3 linked regions of the Homo sapiens genome follow. The protein of the gene in region 1 purifies or fractionates together with the protein of each later gene. This does not show direct contact. Each region holds a gene or a part of one and is shown on either strand. Other genes may lie near its edges. The genes, in order: CCDC33, CENPF and UBASH3B.

The links.
Region 2: the proteins of CCDC33 (region 1) and CENPF purify together in Homo sapiens (affinity purification with mass spectrometry; 2 studies listed by BioGRID and IntAct, with this or other methods). This does not show direct contact.
Region 3: the proteins of CCDC33 (region 1) and UBASH3B purify together in Homo sapiens (affinity purification with mass spectrometry; 2 studies listed by BioGRID and IntAct, with this or other methods). This does not show direct contact.

What each region holds. Positions count from the first base shown.
Region 1 is NC_000015.10:74,267,221-74,274,327, reverse strand, and holds part of CCDC33 (coiled-coil domain-containing protein 33), read right to left. Parts: intron 5,987-7,107; coding exon 5,870-5,986; intron 2,626-5,869; coding exon 2,534-2,625; intron 1,558-2,533; coding exon 1,437-1,557; intron 1-1,436.
Region 2 is NC_000001.11:214,606,136-214,613,242, reverse strand, and holds part of CENPF (centromere protein F), read right to left. Parts: intron 4,930-7,107; exon of another isoform or gene 4,040-4,929; intron 3,224-4,039; exon of another isoform or gene 1-3,223. UniProt on the Homo sapiens protein: Required for kinetochore function and chromosome segregation in mitosis. Required for kinetochore localization of dynein, LIS1, NDE1 and NDEL1.
Region 3 is NC_000011.10:122,791,689-122,798,795, forward strand, and holds part of UBASH3B (ubiquitin-associated and SH3 domain-containing protein B), read left to right. Parts: intron 1-3,013; coding exon 3,014-3,146; intron 3,147-4,467; coding exon 4,468-4,588; intron 4,589-5,222; coding exon 5,223-5,345; intron 5,346-7,107. UniProt on the Homo sapiens protein: Interferes with CBL-mediated down-regulation and degradation of receptor-type tyrosine kinases. Promotes accumulation of activated target receptors, such as T-cell receptors and EGFR, on the cell surface.

The sequences.
Region 1 (7,107 bases):
GAGAAGAGACCAATCTGGCTATTCCCCTGAACCCAGCCATGTTCTGTGCGTGCACCCGCCCCCAACCTCATACTCAAACACACAGCCCTCCTGTCTGCCCTGACATGGGTCATAGCCTGCCTGTCTCCACCTCACACTTGTGCTATTGCTGTGTCCAACCTGTACCAACCCTTCCTCTGTTAAAAATTCAAGACTGCCGGCTGAGTGCAGTGGCTCATGCCTGTAATTCCAGCACTTTGGGAGGCCGAGGTGGACAGGTCACAAGGTCAGGAGTTTGAGACCAGCCTGGCCAACATGGTGAAACTCCATCTCTACTGAAAATACAAAAATTAGCCGGGCATGGTGGCGGGTGCCAGTAATCCCAGCTACCTGGGAGGCTGAGGCAGGAGAATTGCTTGAACCTGGGAGGCGGAGGTTGCTAGTGAGCCAAGATGGTGCCACTGCACTCCAGCCTGGGCAACAAGAGCAAGACTCTGTCTCAAAAAAAAAAAAAAAAATTCAAGACTGCCTTCCCTAATCCAGGCTTTACATCCCTCTCCTCTGATTAAAAAAAATTTTTCGCTGGGCGCAGTGACTCATGCCTGTAATCCCAGCCTTTTGGGAGGCCAAAGCGGGTGGATCACCTGAGGTCAGGAGTTCGAGACCAGCCTGGCCGACATGGTGAAACCCTGTCTCTACTAAAAGGATAAAAATTAGCCAGGCATGGTGGCATGTGCCTATAAGCCCAGCTACTCGAGAGGCTGAGGCAGGAGAATTGCTTGAACCCGGGAGGCAGAGGTTGCAGTGAGCCAAGACTGCGCCACTGCACTCCAGCCTGGGAGACAAGAGCGAGGCTCTGTCTCAAAAAAAATTTTTTTACTGGGTTAAAATATACGTAACACAACATTCACCATTGTAGCCATTTTTAATGTACAGTTCGGTAATGTTAAATGCATTCATTTGTTCGTATTGTTGTGTAACCATCACCACTATCTATTTCCAGGACTTTTCATCACTTGAAACGGAAACTAGGTACTTATGACCTGTAACTCCCCATTCTTCCCTTTCCCCAGCCCCTGTAGCCACTGTTCTACATTCTGACTCTGAATTTTCCTATTCTAGGTATCCCATATAAGTGGAATCATATATTTGTCCTTTTGTATCTTCTCCTCTGATGTGATAGCCCTGACAGGCCCTCCCAGTTTGTTATTAGATTATACATTATCTTGTGTTGATGTTCAACTTTTTCACCCACGTGACTCCCATCTTCACCAGACCAAGAGTTCCTGGAGGGCAGTTTCTCTGCCGCACAGGCGAGCACAGCACTGGGTATGCCGTGGGATTCAGTCAACTCTTACTCGATAGTCAAGGGAACTGCTGACTGACTCACTGAGTGAGTGAACAGTGAATGTGTGGGGTAGTTACAGGAAGCTGGAACCACTGGGGAGGAGACATACCTGAGGGCATCCGTTCTGGCTGACGCGAGGCACGTCAAAGTTCATCATGGACGGGATAGGGAAGGACAGTGGGGTGATGGGCAGCCCCACAGAGGCCAGGTCCCTGTTAGCCTGGCTGACCCTGGGGAGGCAGGGAGACAGGGTCAGTGCTCTGGGCTCTGCACCTGAGCCTGGCAGCCCAGGGCCCCCCGCTTAGACTCTGGGTTGATGCAAGAGAAGGGAGTTGCAGGGATCCCGCCGAGTTCGGGCCTGGACCTCACGACAAGTGGGGACCACTGGGCTGGGCGTGCATCAATCATCTTCCTTCCTCCAACAAGCAAGGGGGCTTCATAAGTCATAAAAACTCAACAGGAGATACAGAGAAGTAGGGGAGTCATCTTGGGCCATCAGGGCCAGTTGGAAGTGACCAAGACAGACCCTGACTCCCAGGAGTCGGTGCTGTGGCAGAGAGCACACGTTCATAGGGGAATTTCCCACTGTGTGGCAAAGTATGAATCTCCTCTTGAGGACTGTGACTCCAACAGACTCAAAAGGAGGTCTAGGGGAGGAGGGGATGAGTTGTGGCTGGGACCAGGGAGACCTCCAGGATGAGGAGGGAGGAGACTCCGCCCGGCAGGGCTAAAGGCTGTGAAGTTCCAAGATGGCCTTTGGGGCCAACCACTGGCTGGAGCCTGTGGCCCTGAGCTAGAGTGGGAGGGGGAGTGGGGAGGTGGTGGGTGTGAGGCAGGGAGGCAGGTTGGAGGGGCTGAGGTTCCCTGAGCAGGGAATGAGGACCCCTCTTGTTGTCCTCCCCACACTCTCTAGCTGTTAGGCCTGGTATCGGCACTCATCCCCACCACCTGCCCTCCAGCTTGCTCTCAGGAGAGGACTGAGCTGCCCCTTTCCAGGGGCCTGGGCTCTCCCTGGGGAAAGAAAGGCATGGTCTGCTGCAGGAAGCTTACTGGGACCTCAGACCCAATGGAGAGGCTTGAAGGGCCTTAGGGGTAGAGGGGTTGCCGGAGGTCCTGGAATCAGCCCATGGCAGCAATGACAGCCTCACCCCCTCCTCTGCCCTCTGCTCTGCCCTCCTCACCCAGGTCCACCTGGGCCCCACTCACTTAAATTCCTTGTAGTTGGGAACGACCCGGGCAATCACCACTATGGGGTTGGGGTTGTTGGCCAGGGGCTCGTTGACTCCCCGGAGAAAGATCTGGAGAGGAGAGGAGAGGAGGCAGGTGAACACCATGTGGCCTTGGGACCTTCCAGAGACAGCCAGCCAGACTGCCTACCCTCTTTTTCCCCATCCGTGAGCTCATGGCTGCCTCCACACTTGACACCTGCTTCTCCCTGTTCCCTGCCTTACTCGGTTCTTGCTTTGCACCAGGCTGCCCTCCCTCAGGAAGCCTTCTCTGCCGAGCTGAGGCAACTGCTCCCGCTTTCTGTCCTGGGATTTACCAATGGATCTCTTACACTAGTTTCTTTGGGGAGAAAGGGTACGATGAGAGTTGGGTCCTGGGAAGGGAGGTTGTGTTCTAACCTCGGCCCCTCCACTGGCTCCTGGGGAGGGGTTGGGCTAGGGGTAGGGCTAGGTGTTCCAGCTCCTTGGTTTCTGTCAGTCAAATGAGGCTCCTCCCAGGGCTGTGAGGGGTCTCTGATTAGATCGTTTGTGAGAGAGCACTTTATAAACTGAAGACAGGAAGCCCAGGTCTGGTTTCTCCGACCATGCTGAACTTCCTGAGATCAGCGGCCACAGCCAGGCTCCCCTTGCCTCCCTCGTGCCCATCACCCTGGTGCCTGCTCCACTGCTCACCCTGGTGCCTGCTCTCCTGCCTTGCTGGTTTCCCCAGGAAGTACTGGTTTGGAACAGGATCATAGCATCCGCATCTCTGGGCTCCTCTTTCTTCATCAGATCCCGGTTGTCACTCCCCTGACCGCCCTTGGTTGTTCCCTCCTCAGTCCTCTGTCACCCCCTAAAGGCTTCCCTGCCTCCCAGTCCTGACTGCCCTCTCCTCTACTCCAGGCTTCTATTGGCGCAGCTTTCAGAGAGCCGAGCGGGGTCCCAGCAGGAGGTTACAAAGCAGGAGTGGACAGCGTCACCTTGCTCCAACCCTCACTGACCCCCTGCTCAGTCTGGGCCTGGGGGACACTGGAAGGCAGACAGGGGAGACAGGGAGTCTGTCCCCATGCGCCTCTGCTGCCAGCCTAAGAGGCCCTGATCTCCCGGACCCTGACCCTCACCCTGTATCCACCAATGGCTCCCACTCTCCCTCAGCCCTCACCCACCTCCCACTCGGCTCTCATTCCTCTTGCTCCTTCGATTCCTCTGCCTCCTCACTAGCCTCTCCACTTCTGTTCCTTTCCCTAATCCATCCTCTTTCCCAGGCAATTTGACACATGATGGCAAAAGTGCTCTTGTTAAAAATGAACTGGGTCACGTTATTCCCTGCCCGACACCCCACAAGCCCCTCTGCCGTGTCTCCCGACAGGCCCCCAGCCCCTGTCTTCTTGCTCCAGACTCTTTTACTCCTGCCACTTACCCCTCTTATTTCTGCCACAGGGTCTTTGCACATGCTGATCCCTCTACTCAGACTCCCTGCAGCTCCCACCAACCCATTGTGGCTGGCGAGGGCCCAGGAGTGAGGCTTGTTCTGGATCATTCTCCCTTTTCTCCCTCCGCACCCTCCTTTCAGGCTCCTCTTTCAATACCCATCTCAGCTGGTTTTCCCACCTCTAACCCCACACAGGTGTGAGCTGATGGGCACGTACAATAGTCCTTAGGGCCTCGCAGCTCTCACTGAGGGCTCTGGAGACTGAATCCCTTCATCACATTCAAAGGATTGAATCTCTGATGGTACATTTCACACTTTGGATGGGTCTGGGGTCTGGGGCTGAGGGATTTCACTGGAGGCTGGCAGGCCCTATTGCTCACAGGCTCCCCAGCAGGTGTAAGACTAAAAAGGGGGTGGTGGCAGCTAATTTGCACCTGTTCTGTGTGGACTCTGATCAGGTGTGAATGAGACAGCTGCCCAAGTACACCTGCTCATGACAGCCTGGGAAGTAGCAGAAGTTCCTGCTCCTGCCATGCGCTCACCATCAGGAGCAGGCAGCTGCTCTGTGGCCATACCTGTCGCACGGATGGAGAGGGCATCTGTGCTGGGGCAGGAGAGTGGGCAGGGTGCTGTGAGCCAGAGAAGGCCCCTACTCTACCGCTCTACCAGGCAAGTCAGAGGGCTGGGTGGGGTGGGGCAGCTCCACAGCAGCCCTAAAGTTCTGCCTGTGTCTTGGGGATGTGGCCTCCTCCCTGTGGGGTGCGGCCTGGGGACAGCAAGGCCAGGCTGTTGCCCCTCTTCCTTGTTCTGTGTGTGTGTGAATTGCTGGCTGTCCTCAGGAAAGGGCGTGATAGAAGGTGGCGGGGAGCAGAGGGCGCCTGTAGGTCTGATATGCTGGCATCAGAGGGGTGGCTGTAGGGGAGTAGAAATGTGGGTTAGGAGTTTTGGCTCCCATACCATACTCCCCTTGGGTCTCAGTGTCCCTGGCTGTGAAAGAAGGCAAAAGAATGCTTCCTTCCCTGCCAGGCCCACGGTGCTGGTGGGAAGTAGGGGGGTGGGAAGGATAGGAACAGATCAGCCATGTTTGGGTAGGTGGAAGCTCAGAGCTTGGGTCCTGTGGCTCCCACCCTGATCATACTCAGGCCATAGCTGAATTTGAATCTGTCACCCATGGGCAGTTTGAAAGTTGGGGGGAATGGGAGAGGGGCCAGGTCCCTGCATCATGTCTGCTTTGAGCATCAAGAGTTCCTCCCAAAGCTGCTAATTGGCCTAGGGGGTGGATGGTGATGGGTCAAGGGGCAGTGGCCAGGCCCAAGGTGGGCTCAGCCCTGTCCTGGCTAATGGAAGAGGCTCTGTAAACAGTTGCTGGATGAATAAATGAATGAATAAACTAAATACCTAATCGCCAGACCAGTCAAACCTCTTTAGACACAGTGCTGAAGGAAAGCTCAAGGAGGCCCTAAACTTTTGCTTGGGGGCCAAGGCACTATCCCAGGAGGGGAAGAATAGAGCAGGAAACTGCTGGGCTGTGGGCTCAGGGGGAGCACGGGGCTTCTCCCCTGCCCCTAGCATAAGATTCGGGGAGACAGGCTCTGGTCCCCACTGCAGCACAGAGACGGTACACCAGGAGCAGCAGTGTGGCTGAGCCCCTCCCCGCCACCTCCAAGACAGAGAGGGAAGGAGAAGAGGCTTGAGCATCTTCATCCTTGTCATCCCTGCCAAAGGGCTTGTCTTCACAACTCCTTTTGCTATTTTGGAAAGGCCTGGTTGCTTTTTCCATTCTTGACATCTCTGCTCCACACCCTCAGGTCAGCCAGAGGGGGCTAAGGGCAAGGCGTGGGGCCTGCTCAAAGCTTGGCCCTTTCCCACCCCCACCACCACCCCAGAGGGCCCCAGCCCTGGTACCTCCAGAGCCATGTGGTTGCAGCCGATGTAGCGGGGTATGAAGCTGCTCTTCCGAACGACTGTTGCGTACAACTGGGTCTTGGCAGTGGCTTCATCGGCTTTCCCAGACTCAGTGGGCTGGAGACAGGGTTGGGGCAGAAGACACAGAGGAAGGAGAGTGTCTAAGGGGCAGATCCTGGCCATAAATCCAGCCCTCTGCAGACAATCACTTGGCATTGCTCCGCTGGGGCTCCGAGCTGATAATTAAAGCTCATGGTCCCTGTGAGCCCTTCCAAGGAGATCAATATAATAAATCTTCCCTTTTCCATTTGAATATTTCATCACCCTCACAAGGACCACTGCCTGTCTGCTTTCCAGTAAAGATGTGATAACAAGGCCTGGGTTGTAAGTGAACAGACAGCCAGGGGGCCTGGGTGATGCCCCCAGAATTACAGCTCAAGTGCTGAGTCTCCCAGGGTGAGTAGCACATCTCTCTTTTACTTCCCTGCATGGCCCATCCTGAAGCCCTGGGATTGGGGTTCCTCATGGGGCCTAAGAGAAGGTAAAGCCCCCTGGTGCCATGATTGAAGAAATGCTTAGAAGAAAGTTCAGTGCTGGCCCGGAGGAGGGATGGGGGAGGGTAACTGACCAAACTGAGCACCTACTGTATGCCAGGAACCTTGCCTATCATTGCTTGAGATCCTCAAAACGACTGTGCCAGCTTTGCCAGTGAGGATGGAGGCCTGGGGACCAAGTGGCTTCCATGGGTATCCAGCTAGGAGGCAACAAACTTGGTCTAGGACCCCCGACAGTCTGGCTTCACATTGTTCTTTACTCTCAACCACTTTCAGGGTCTGGAATGCACAGTGGGGAGGGGAATGTGATGCTTCTGTTCATCTCTGGCTCACTACCTGGCACATAGTAGGTGCTTCATAAGTCCTTGAGCAATGAGAGAGTGAATTCTACCCCTTACCCTTCAGCACTAGGAGGGAGGACAGGCAGGGGTCTGGCCTGGGAGGCCCAACCTTGGAGTGAGGAGCCTCAGGCCCCTCAGTCCATGGCTTGGACCCAGTTGCTCACTCCAGGGGTGCATTCCAGGGAATGCTTTATTCCATGTACCCCCCAACTCTCCTGGGCCTTCTGGCCAAGGCAGCATGTGGAGGCAGCTCAGAAGGAACTGGCTTGGGAGACAGCATGACTTGGGCTCACCCTCAACTCTGCCGCTCACTTGCTCTGTGACCCAGGAGGAGGAGATTTTT
Region 2 (7,107 bases), on another chromosome or scaffold:
GGGCCTCCAAGAATGATTTACGAAAATCAAGTATACAGCCTTAAAATAGAATGTATCCTAAATGCCCAGAAGCACCCTGCCTTTGTAAGATTTGTAACAAAAATTAATATAAATAGGGTTAATAGTTGTAATGGAGTGGTGGACCAAAAAGCCATATCAGTGCTAGCAAAATGGCAGAATTCATGTAGCATCAAAGTTGTCCTACAAGAGCTTTGGTGCCTAATGATGTCTAAAGAAAATGTGACACTCCTTCAGCTGCCTGAAGGACAGGGTTACAGCAGTTAATCAAAAAGAAAAACCATAGGCCCTTCCCCTTCCTGCCCCCCATTCAATTTAAACAGTCTTCATCTTCCACAGTAGTAAATTTTCTAGATATGCCTTGTAGACCTCAAAGGACTAGAAAGGAAGCTCCCATTCAAAGGAAATTTATCTTAAGATACTGTAAATTATACTAATTTTTTGTCCATTTGAAATATGTTAGTTGCGCTGTAACAATCATCCTGCCATGTGTAACATCCTGTCCACATACTTGAATTTCTGGGATCAAGAAAGTATATTTAAATTGATTCCCATCATAACTGGTGGAGTACATCTAACTCAACTGTGAAAAGACATATCACATAATCACCTTGCTGCTGATTAAATGGCCTGGGGCCTCTGCCTTCTCCTGTGGGATTACTGTTGGGTGTACAGGGTACTTTGTCTGTACCCCTGGTTTCCAAAAAAATTAAGGAGGAGGGACGCCTCCTCAACTCATTCTATGAGGCCAGCATCATCCTGATACCAAAACCTGGCAGAGACCCAACAAAAAAAGAAAACTTCAAGCCAATATCCTTGATCAACGATGCAAAATTCCTCAAAAATATACTTGCAAACCAAGTCCAGCAACACATCAAAAAGCTAATCCACCATAATCAAGTAGGCTTCATCGCCAGGATTTACGGTTGGTTCAACATACGCAAATCAATAAATATGATTCATCACATAAGCATAACTAAAGACAAAAATGACATGATTATCTCATGCAGAAAAGCTTTCATTAAAAATTCAACATCCCTTCACGTTAAAAACTCTCAATAAATTAGGTATTGAAGGAACATACCTCAAAATAATAAGAGCCATCTATGACAAACCCACAGCCAACATCATACTGAATGGGCAAAAGCTGAAAGCATTCCCCCCTTGAAAACTGGCAAGGAGGCCCTCTTCCACTACTCCTATTCAACATACTATTGGAAGTCCTGGCCAGAGCAACCAGGCAAGAGGAAGAAATAAAAGGCATCCAAATAGGAAGAGAGGAAGTCAAACTACCCCTGTTTGCAGACAACATGATCCTACATCTAGAAAACCCCATAGTCTTGGCCCAAAAGCTCCTTCAGTTGATAAACAACTTCAGCCAACTCTCAGGATACGAAAATCAATATACAAAAATCACTAGCATTCCTATACACTGACAACAGCCAAGCCAAGATCCAAATCAAAAATGCAATCTCATTCACGATTGCCACAATATGAATAAATCACCTAGAAATACAGCTAACCAGGGAGGTGAAAGATCTGTACAATAAGAATTAGAAGGCTGGGCTCAGTGGCTCACGCCTGTAATCCCAGCACTTTGGGAGGCTGAGGCGGGCAGATCACCTGAGGTCAGGAGTTCAAGACCAGCCTGGCCAACATGGTGAAACCCCATCTCTACTAAAAATACAAAGATTAGCTGGGTGTGGTGGCAGACGCCTGTAATCCCAGCTACTCAGGAGGCTGAGACAGGAGAATCACTTGAACTTGGGAGGCAGAGGTTGCAGTGAGCTGAGATCGCACCACTGCACTCCATCCTGGGCAACAAAGAGCGAAACTCCATCTCAAAAAAAAAAAGAATTAGAAAACACTGCTCAAAGAAATCAGAGTGACACAAATGGAAAAACATCCCATGCTCATGAATATGAAGAATCAGTATCATTGAAATGGCCATACTGCCCAAAGCAATTTGCATATTCAATGCTATTCCTATCAAACTACCAAAGACATTGTTCACAGAACTAGAAAAAACTATTTTAAAATTGATATGGAACCAAAAATAAGCCCAAATAGCCAAGACAAGCCTAAGCAAAAAGAACAAAGCTGACAGCAACATGTTACCCTACTTCAAACTATACTACAGGGCTACAGTAACCAAAACAGCATGGTACTAGTACAAAATCAGACACATAGACCAATGGAACATAATAGAGAGCCCAGAAATAAGCCGCACACCTACAACCATCTGATCTTTGACAAAGCTGACAAAAACAAACAATGGGGAAAGGATTCCCTATTCAATAAATGATGAGATAGCTGGCTAGCCATATGCAGAAGAATGAAACTGGACCCCCTCCTTACACCATATACAAAAATTAATTCAAGATGGATTAAAGACTTAAATGTAAAACCCCAAACTATAAAAACCACAGAAGACAACCTAGGCAATACCATCCCGGACACAGGAATGGGCAAATATTTCATGACAAAGACACTAAGAGCAATCACAACAAAAGCAAAAATTGACAAATGAGATCTAATTAAACTGAAGAGCTTCTGCACAGCAAAAGAAACTCAACAGAGTAAAAAGACAACCTAAAGAATGGGAGAAAATATTTACAAACTATGCATCTGATAAAGGTCTAATATCCAGCATCTATAAGGAACTTAAATTTACAAGAGAAAAACAACAACCCCATTAAAAAGTAGGCAAAGGACATGAACACTTTTCTAAAAAAAAAAAAAAAATACATGTGGCTAACAAGCATATGAAAAAAAGCTCAATATCACTATCATTAGAGAAATGCAAATTAAAACCACAATGAAATACCATCTCACACCAGTCAGAATGGCTATGATTAAAAAGTTAAAAAATAACAGATGCTGGCCAAGTTGAGAAGGGAACACTTATACACTTTTGGTGGGAGTGCAAATTAGTTCAACCATTGTGGAAAGCAGTATGGCAATTCCTCAAAGAGCTAAAAACAGAACTACCATTCAACCCAGCAATCTCATTCCTGGGTATATACCCAGAGGAATATAAATCATTCAGCCATAAAGACACATGCATGGCCAGGCACAGTGGCTCATGCCTGTAATCCCAACACTTTGGGAGGCCAAGGCAGGTGGATAACTTGAGCTCAGGAGTTCGAGACCAGCCTGGGCAACATGGCAAAATCCCTTATCTACCAAAAAAAAAAAAAAAAAAGGCACATGCACACACAAATGTTCATTGCAGCACTGTTCACAATAGCAAAGACATGCAATCAATCTAAATGCCCATCAGTGACAGATTGGATAAACAAAATGTAGTACACATATACCATGGAATACTATGCAGCCATAAAAAAGAATGAGATCATGGTTTTTTGCAGGAACATGGATGGAATTAGAGGCCATTATCCTTAGCAAACTAATGCAAGAACAGAAAACCAAATGAACACAAAGAAGGGAACAACAGACACTGAGGCCTCCTTGAGGGTGGAGAGTTGGAGGAGGAAGAGCAGAAGAAAAAATAACTATTGAGTATTAGGCTTAGTACCTGGGCAACAAAATAATCTGTACAACAATCCCCCATGACATGAGTCTACCTGTAAAACAAACCTGCATGTGTACCCCTGAACCAAAAATAAAAGCTAAGAAAAAAATAATATTTTGCCATAAGGTTTTCAGGTGAAATAGGTCCTATAAACAAAGAAAATGCATGACAAGATATTCTGCATATGCTCCTCTTTCCCTCTTCACATGGTTAATTACCACTCACACTTTGTCCCTCTTCCTCTGGGAAACTTTTCTGAGATCCCTGACCCGGCCATAGTTTCCCATCATAGTTACTCACAGCACAGGTAGCCCATCTCCTTCCAAGCAGTTATCATTTTTTAATAATGAATGCATGCATGAATGAAGAGTGAATGCCGTATTAGTACTAGAATCACTGCAAAAGGTGGTAAAGTCATGCTCCAGACAGACACTGACCAGGAAAGACATATACAGTACAACCTTAGAGATTCAAAGCGGATTCTTCGGGGGGAGCTGCGGCGGTGGCGATGCAGGAGGCCGGCCGGGGCGCGGAGGGACCGACGGACGCACGGGCAGGCGGCCAGGCGCCATGGAGTGCGGCCCTGGGGCCCAGGGGCGCGGGCCGGGGTGGGCTTCCCACGGCGTGACATGGAGACCTGTGGTTGCGAGGCTCCCTGGGGCTCGGCTTGGACCGCGATGGGGCTGGGCCCTGGCCTCCTAACGGGGCTGCCGTCTGGGGCCGTAGCTGGGGGGGCGCCCTCCCCCCTGCCCGCGACTCGGAGCACCCCCACCCCTCCCCTGCCGGGCCAGGCCGGGCGGCGTTGTTGGCTGGGGCCCCGGTGGGGGCCTGGCCCGGGCGGCGCCCGCCATGAACGGGCTGTCGCTGAGTGAGCTCTGCTGCCTCTTCTGCTGCCCGCCCTGCCCCGGCCGCATCGCTGCCAAGCTCGCCTTCCTGCCGCCGGAGGCCACCTATTCCTTGGTGACTGAGCCCGAGCCGGGGCCTGGTGGGGCCGGGGCCGCCCCCTTGGGGACCCTGCGGGCCTCCTCGGGCGCACCCGGGCGCTGGAAGCTGCACCTGACGGAGCGCGCCGACTTCCAGTACAGCCAGCGCGAGCTGGACACCATTGAGGTCTTCCCCACCAAGAGCGCCCGCCGCAACCGCGTCTCCTGCATGTATGTTCGCTGCGTGACTGGTGCCAGGTACACGGTCCTCTTCTCGCACAGCAATGCCGTGGACCTGGGCCAGATGAGCAGCTTCTACATTGGCCTGGGCTCCCGCCTCCATTGCAACATCTTCTCCTACGACTACTCCGGCTACGGTGCCAGCTCGGGTAGGCCTTCCGAGAGGAACCTCTATGCCGACATCGACGCCGCCTGGCAGGCCCTGCGCACCAGGTGAGGGCAACCCTGGGGGCAGCTCAGCCTGGGCACACCCAAGAGGGGACCAGGCCGGGGGCCGGGGGGCGGGCTTCCCTGGGAGGAAGGTGGGCGGCTCTGCAGGAGGGGAGCCACAGTGGATGCACAGGGCCAGAGAGCCGGACAGGCGAGCTTGGGTGTGCAGGTGCAGCCTCCACATGGCTGAGGTGTGGCCAGGCGGTCCTTCCACACCCTGGCCTGTGGAGCCAGGCTCCCTGGGAACCCCTGGCCTGAGGACGGGAAGGGGCTGAGCTTGTCACAGGGGCGTGGATGCCACCCGGCGGGAGGGAGTGGGTGGTGTCTGGGGGTCTGTGCACGTGTGGCTGGGGCCCCATCGGCCGAGGCAGCACTTGGGGCCAAGTGAGGCGAGGCTGCTGCATCCAGGTCCCGAGGCCTGGCCCATGAGGCCCTGTGGCTGCGGAGCTTGGCCATCCTGGGGCAGGGCCTGCAGGGTCAGGTGCAGACCCCCAGCACACATCCAAGGTCTGGGCCAGCCTCCATTCCAGATCCAGCCCTCCTAGTCATCCAGGTCCCCAGCCCTGCGCTTGCCTGGGGCCTTCACTGGTGTTTGAGCACCGCCCGGGCCAGTGCTGCTTTGGATGAGGAGACCCGGGTGGGCCTCTGGTGACCTTTCCTGCTCGCCATCCACTGGGGCTGTCTCGTCCTGGCCCTGCCCAGCCCACTGGTCTGACCTGCTCCCGCAGGGACCAGGCATAGCTCTGAGAAGTCAGAGGCCCTGGGGAGGTGGGGTCCTCGTTGCCTTGGTGATATTGCAGGCAGTCCCTGCTGTGGGCCTGGGAGCTGGTCCCCTGGCACCACCCTGGCTCCAGGGGCCTCCCAGCAGTGTGGGGCGCTGACACCAACCACTTCATGCGACTTCCTCGGCCCCTCCTGTCTCTACTGCCTGGGCCACTGGCAGAGTCACACCCGCCATGGCCAGCTCTGAGCTCTGTCTGCTCGGCCATCTGTCCTGCTGCCACTTTGTCCTGCAGGAACCTAGGCCCAGAGCTGTGAGGGGGAGGCCAGAGCATGCCCAGGGCCTCCACTGGGGATGTGTCCTGTTCGTTTGAGTGGTGACATCCAGGTGGCAGCTGGGGGCTCCTGCCTGGTAGCAGGTGACAGGGCTGGGCTGGCTCAGCACACTACTGACCATGGCTGCCAGGGAGCAGGCCAGGGAGGCTAAGGCAGAGCTGGGGCCACAGGCACAAGCCAGGCAGCATCCTTTGGGGCATGGGTGAGTGGCGAGCTGTGGAGTGCTGCCAGGAGGCTGGGATTCCAGGCCAGGGAGGGGGACAGCCCTGCTGGTGGAGTCCGAATGCCAGGCAGAGGGGACGCACACCTGCCCATGCTCCTGCCTTGCAAGAGGGCATCTGCCTGGGATCAGAGCCTGGAGCGTGTGGGAGGAGAGTTGTGGGGTCCCGGCATGGGCAGGGTGGCAGGTGGGTCCCGCGTGGTTGGGACTGGGCACGAGGAGGCCTTGTAACTGGTGCTGGATCAGCTGGGTCACGGGCTGCACACCAGTGACCTGGGGGTGGGGGTGGCCCTGGGTGGGAGCTGGTGATGCTGAGGTGGCCGAGGACTTGTCCACTCCCAAGGGAAGGTGCTGGTGGGAGGGGGTGCCACCTCCGCAGCCACGACCCTCGATGCTGACCTGGGTTGCACTGGCATCTCATTGGGCGTGGGGACTCCGAGAGTCCAAAATTGGGTGGAGACATTTGGGGACACAGCTGCCTGAATTCCTCATGGCCAAGGGGGTGGGCAAGGGCTGCAGGGAGGAAGAGTGTCCGCTGTCCTGGCCAGTGCACCAGGAACGGCTTTCTAACCCGGGCAGGAAGGCGTGAAGCATTCAGGATGTGGGGGGCACACAGTTCCCAGTGTGCACCTAGGGGTGATCAGGAGGAGAGGCGCCAGGGCCTCCCCTACCTCCGCCCCAGGGCCACTCCGTAGGCGGGATCCCTACAGATCCTAGCTAGGAAACGCCAGGGAACGGCAGCGCCAGGGAACGGGGTGGGGCCGCTGGCTTCGCCCACCGCCGCGGTGTTGAGGGCTGGGGGTGGCCCTCGGGACTGGTGTGGAGCCTGGGCCTGACCCACTGACTTGGCTGAGTGGGGAGACTGGAGGGTCGCATCCGGAGCTGGGCCCGGGGACGCCCGCTGG
Region 3 (7,107 bases), on another chromosome or scaffold:
GAGCCCCAGGGGGATGTCAAGCATGGCCTGGCTGGCATGGTGGGAGTTGCCCAGGGGATCCAGGCAACAAGTCATGACTGGGGGTCAATGATTTTGACAACACTCCCTGCCAAGTGCTTCTCAGTTCTCTGAGTCCCTCCTAAGGAAATATGTTCTCTCCACACTAACTGGAGTGTCTTACTTGGTTCTGAGTTATGAACCAAGACAAGTTGATGAAGCTGGGTGAGCTGCCTGGCCGCTTGGGCTTAGCACAGGCCTGGTGTGTTGCAGGGAGAAGCCAGCTCTCCCGATGCTTGAGATGTTCTGGATGTCAGGCCCGGCTTCCTCCCTCCACTGTTCTGAGCAAGAAGCATCTGACTGTTTTCTTACTGGAACTGGCAGCTCCACGCTGTCTCAGAGTGAGTCAGGTCCTTTGATTATAATGACAGTTAAGAAGGGAAAGAGGCTGGCATTCGTCTTGCCATGGGAGACGAAGGAGGGAGAGAAGGGATCCTATCAGTATCTTCACAGCTGCGATAAAGAAACAAACAGATATGTACAAGAACGATTCTAGGTAGCCAGACATTTTGCACCCTGAAGCTTTGATGAGTCAGACAATAAAACTGGATTTTCTTTTTTTTTTTCTTTTTTTTTTTTTTAATTTTTTCTGAGATGGAGTCTCACTCTGTTGCCCAGGCTGGAGCACAGTGGTGCAATGTTAGCTCACTGTAACCTCTGCCTTCTGGGTTCCAGTGATTCTCCTGCCTCAGCCCCCCGAGTAGCCAGGACTACAGGTGTGTGCCACCACGCCCAGCTAATTTTTGTATTTTGAATAGAGACGGGGTTTCACCACGTTGGCCAGGCTGGTCTTGAACTCCTAACCCCAGGTGATCTGCCTGCCTCGGCCTCTCAAAGTGCTAGAATTACAGACGTGAGCCGCTGTGCCCAGCCAAACTGGATTTTCTTGAACTGTGTGATGTTTGGGAGGGTCTTAGTTTAAAATAAAGTAGAATAGCTGGTCTATTATACTGTGTGAACGGCACAAGATTTCCTTGGGCTACAGTTACTTAAATTTTACTGTAACAGGTTTCACTTGGCAACATACGCAGATGGACTGATGCTGCTTTGTTGAACTGTAGGTTCCTGGGTCCCACCCCTGACCTACTGAGTCACAATGTGTGAGGAGCAGAACCCCAGCACGAGTGTATTTTTTTTAAGTCTCCTGGTGATTCTGATATGCACAAGGGTTCAAAATCAGTTTTTCAGGGCATGAGACTTCTGAGACTTCGTTTATAAGTAGATAGAATGAGTCTATCACTTCTAGTGAAAAAGGAGCCACTTCTGAAAGTGAAGGAACAAAAATTTACTAACAACCAGTTTGCTGTATTATATTGGTGAATATAAAAAGGTATTTTCAAAAATAAAATTATGGGCCAGGTGCAGTGGCTCACTCCTGTAATCCCAGCATGACTTTGGGAGGCCAAGCAGGCAGATCACCTGAGGTCAGGAGTTTGAGACCAGCCTGGCCAACATGGTGAAACCCCATCTCTACTAAAAATACAAAAATTAGCCGGGCGTGGTGACGCACGCCTGTAATCCCAGCTACTCCAGAGGCTGAGGCAGGAAAATCGCTTGAACCTGCAGGGTGGAGGTTGCAGTGAGCCCAGATCATGTCATTGCCCTTCAGCCTGGGCGACAAGAGCAATACTCCGTCTCTAAAATAAAATAAAATTCTGATAATACAATGTTAAAAGTGAATAATCCAGAACAGGTGGTAGCCTAAACGGGTTGCCTCATCAACAGATGCAAGCCAGGAGTATATGGAGCAAACTGGGATGGATGGCTACCCAAATTGTAAAGAAGCAAGAAATCTATAAAATTTAAATGTTTCCCCTGGACTCTGCTCAGTGATTCCAAAGATGTTCACTGGATTTGCCTAACAACCATATTTACATTGCAATGTTTATTAGATAAAGCTTTGTGGAAGTCTTAACTATTGACAATAATTTAAGCTTGGCAGGTTTTGACTGTCTTCCTTTCAGCAAGACCTCTTTTAGGCTTCTGTAGCTATAGTGTTACACTCAGAAATGACAGTTCTTGGCTCACAGCTCTAAACGTCTGGTGAGAATGGTCTTCTCTGAAATAATTCTATTTGTAATCATCTTGTTGGAGGCGTGATTGAGGGGGAGATAGGGTTTGGAGACCGAAGAGGGTAGAATAGGGGACTTTGGCACAAAGTTTCCTTGACTGTTAGGAGCCACTGGCTGAGGTGGAGATGGTGAAAATACCCCCCATCACTCTTCACTTCAGATGGAAATTACCACGGGAAATATTAAAGGCAACAGGGATCGTAGATTTCTTTTGAACCAGAAAAATAGCTGCAAACAGATCATTGATACGTTGTTATTCTTGAACTTGTCTTTGGTGCCAACCATGCATGGCACAAAATCACTAGGATCCATCCCTGCCCAAAGGAATGAATATATCTGTCCTCAGTGCAGAAATCCATCTACCTCTAATTTATTTATTTACTTATTTTTATTCTTATTTCTTTTTGAGACGGGGTTTCGCCGTATCGCCCGGGCTGGAGTGCAGTGGTGCGATCTTGGCTCACTACAACCTCCACCTCCCAGGTTCAAGAGATTCTCATACCTCAGCCTCCCTAGCAGCTGGGACTACAGGCACGCACAACCACGCCCAGCTGATTTTTTGTATTTTTAGTAGAGATGGGATTTCGCCACATTGGCCAGGCTGGTCTCAAACTCCTGACCTCAGGTGATCCGCCTGCCTCGGCGTCCCAAAGTGCAGGTGTGATCACCACACCCGGCCTACCTCTAATTTATTAACTGCAAGACTTCAGTATAAAACAAGGTATTTTTCCCTTAGGAATGAGGCCACTCCTGCTCAGCATCCCCCATCATTGTGCTACCCACAGAGGGCTTTGAGTTAACTCCCACACTCCTGTTGAGCCCAGGAGGAAGTGCTGATGACTGCTGGCCAGAGCAGTTAACACCTTCCTTATCTTCCTCTGCAGTTCTTATTCAATCTTAAATACATCGTCATCCAACTCTCTCACGTTTGGGGATGGAGTATTGGAGAGGCGGCCTTATGAGGACCAGGGGCTCGGGGAGACGACTCCTCTTACTATCATCTGCCAGCCCATGCAGGTAAGGCTGATTGCTAGGGTCACACCCCCAACTCTAACCAGGATTCACTGAGAACCTATTTATTAAGCATGAGGCCTTGCCCTTGCTGTCTCCAAAGCTTCCACGATCTCTTGGGAAGAAAGTACACCAAATTATAAAAGATATACAAAAATTCAAGGCTAGGAAGAGTCAGATGAGCAGTACTGACAGTTACTTCCAGCATTTGAACCTAGGTTCATAAGGAACGTTGTTCCACAGAGATAGGAGGAGAGTTTATCTCTAAAGTAGGAATAATGCCCATAGTTGTATCTGTTTTGTAGGTTGTTACAAAGATTAAAGAAAATAATAAAATTAGGCTCTTAGCACCATAACTGGCATATAATGAGTGCTCAGTATGTGTTAACTTTTTCAAGGAAGGTTGGAGATGGAAGGAGGCAGGGAGTCGTTGTTGAACAGTACAAATAGAGGCAAGCTGAAAGTTCAAGCATGTTGAGGATCAAGAGAGTAACCATTGTGGCTGGAGCCCAGGATTTAAATTAAGGAACAACAGGAAAAGAGATGGGAAGGATCATGCCACCGTTCCACATATTAACCACGTCAGGGCAACTAGAAGCAAATGTGAAGTGCTGGCCCGCGCTAAGGAAACTGGAAAAGCTGACTGCATCAGAAAGACGGAATGCAGAAACAGCTGTAAGGTTCCATCCAGCAGTTATAGAAGCCAAAGTCATTTGGACAAGCCTTTGACTAGATTTGCCTATGTCATCACCCAGAGGTAGCAGTTGTCTCATTTTGGGGATCATATATATAGTCAGACAGCAGAGGCTACATAGTGATTAGAATAGGAAAACAGGGTCTCATTACTGGAGCAGACCATGAGGACCATGTGGTCTGTCCACACACTTTAGAGAAGAGGTAGACACATTTGTGATCACAGAAGTCCTCACTCCCTGAAGAAGTTGATGAATTGCCCCTTTTTGGGGGGAAGGTGCCCCACTAGATGGCTCTCTCTACATGAATGGCTAGTTTTACCTCTGAGCTGTAACTTAAAGTGGACGTCATATTTTAGTGGCCACTTTAATGGCCAAATGCTACTCCTACAAAGAGCAGCCGTAGCAACAATAATGCCCTTTTCATAACCCTTCCTATTTTATAAAGCACATGCAGTTTATCTTATTCCAGCCTCCAAATAACTTATGAGGTCTGTAGGACGAGTCTTACTGTCCTCACCAAGTCATACCTTGGCAGAACTTTGGTAGTAGAGCTCAGCTCACCTGGCACCTGGCTCCAAGACATGTCCACTTTGCCATGTGTGTCTTCACTAATAGCCTTTCTTTCTCTGCAGCCGCTGAGGGTCAACAGCCAGCCCGGCCCCCAGAAGCGATGCCTTTTTGTGTGTCGGCATGGTGAGAGGATGGATGTTGTGTTTGGGAAGTACTGGCTGTCCCAGTGCTTCGATGCCAAAGGTGAGTTGGTGGTGGGCCTGCTCAGCACTGCCATACCCATAGTGGCCTCTAGGCGGCACAGTCAAGCTACAGTTATCTAGATGGAGTCATTCATAGTTTTGCGTACTATAGAAGATGTCTGTCATGTGTAAGCCCCTCCTGATTGTCTTGAGCTTTAGAGAAGAAGTAAGTGTTCTTGTCCCCATTCTATAAACTGGGATACCACGGACCAAAGAAGACAGATGTCTTGCCCCAGGTCATATGGCAAAGTCAGCAGCAGAAACGTGCCCTGATCCTATGGCCAGAGTTCCTGCCATTAAATCTCCCTGGCTCGCTCGGTTCCATTTTCATTTGAGTAGCATTTGAAGATACAGAGGCTTGCTTAACCAGGGAATCTCACCTGCTTTAAAGTGCCTGGTTATTACCTTCACTGAGAAACTACCTCATGTCACTTTTGTCAGTAGAATGGAAAAGTGGATTCCAAGTCACTTTATGAAACAAAATGTCAGCCTTGATATTTTCTATCAGCTCCAGAGAGCTCAGTGTGATCTCTTTGGCCAAGAAGGAATGGGGGTGGAGAGTGTCAGGATCAGTAAGGGAGTCCCAAGTAAACAAGAAATGTATGTATCCTCTGTCTAACCTCTTTGTTTTTCAGGCCGCTACATACGCACCAACCTGAACATGCCTCATAGTTTACCTCAGCGGAGTGGTGGTTTCCGAGATTACGAGAAAGATGCTCCCATCACTGTGTTTGGATGCATGCAAGCAAGACTAGTGGGTAAGTATCCTGGAGTGACTGCACTCCAGGCATTTCTTGCCTCCTCCTTCAAAACACTGGTACCATGGATATGCAAGACACTTCCTGTGGGTTTCTATAACTTTCCTACAAGTTTCCTCAATTCAAAAGGAACTTACTACACAACCATTAAGTTTAGGACACTGTGCTCAGCCCTGGGTTGGTTGACCAAAGTGAATGAGGTGTGGTCCTTATTGAGGAGCACGTGATCCAGTAATGGCGTGGGTTACTGTGCTCACTCTTGGATGTAGCAGACAGGTCAGCTTCTAGTTCAAGACAGCAGCATCTGCCAAACATGGCTGTGGAAGAGGACAAGAGTGAAGAAGATGGACCCTGGACTTGCTGAATTTGTAAAGGCCAACTGATCCTTTGAAGATGCCTAGCTCTTTGCAAGCCCATTCCATTACTGGCACGGGGAGATAGTATTTTCTGTTCAGTCACTTAGCAGATATTTAGTGCTCACTTACTTTGTGCAAGGTATTGGACTAGGGGAACCCAAGTGTGAGTCAGGGAAACAAACTTATGTGTGGATAAATATCATACAATATGATATACATAGAGCTATGCACTAATGTGTATGTATTGATTGCATGCATCCAGACATAGTGATATGCATAGAGCTATGCATGGTCACAGAATATTATGGGAACACAAAAAGACATCTAAGAGTGAAGAGGTGAGCTGAGAGCTGAAGTAGAAGTTAGCTGGGCAAAGAAGGAATAGGAGTGAGGAAATGGCATTCTCAGTGGGAGGGACCACATAAAGAGTCTTAGGCTTGAGAAACAGCCTCAGGAATGCAGGGGAAACAAAGTGTCTTGTGTCTAGAGTATAAATTGTGAGGCAAGGCAGAGATGAGGCTAGCAAGATGGATAAAGGCAAGTTCATGGAAGACCTTGGCCACCATATTAAGGTGTTTGGATTTAATCCAGTAGACAAAATAACTGGATTCCAGGCCAGGCGTGATGGCTCTCACCTATAATCTAGCACTTTGAGAGGCTGAGGCAAGAGGATTGCTTGAGACCTGGAGTTCGAGGCTGCACTGAGGTATGATCACACCCCTGCACTCCAGCCTGAGTGACAGAGCAAAACCCTATCTCTAAAAATTAAATTAAGAATAATAATAAATTTTTTAAAGAAGTGGATTTTATGAGGATAGCATTAAAGTATGAGGTGTTGGGATTTATCTCTGGTATCTAAAAATATGACATGTTGAGATTTTGGTTAGCACAGAATAAAATTAAAACAAGACCTAATATTCATAAAATAAATCCTCTTTCACAAACTTGAAGCCAAAGTATTGTCCTGTTTCTAAATATCTCCTAGCTAAAGCCTTTACCACTTGTTAGCACCAGAGGGAAGGGAAAGAAAAGACAAGAAGGGGCCAGGTGTGGTGGCTCACGCCTGTAATCCCAGCACTTTGGGAGGCTGAGGTAGGCGGATCACGAGGTCAAGAGATCGAGACCATTCTGGCCAACATGTTGAAACCCCATCTCTACTAAAAGTACAAAAATTAGCTGGGTGTGGTGGTGCGCGCCTGTACTCCCAGCTACTCGGGAGGCTGAGGCAGGAGAATGGCTTGAACCCGGGAGGCAGAGGTTGCAGTGAGCCGAGATCACACCACTGCACTCCAGCCTGGCGACAGAGCGAGACTCCATCTCAAAAAAAAAAAAAAAAGACAAGACAAGAAGGGCTCTGTCGCTTGCTCTCATAGGAACGCCGATGAGGGGTTTTGTTAGAAACTAAC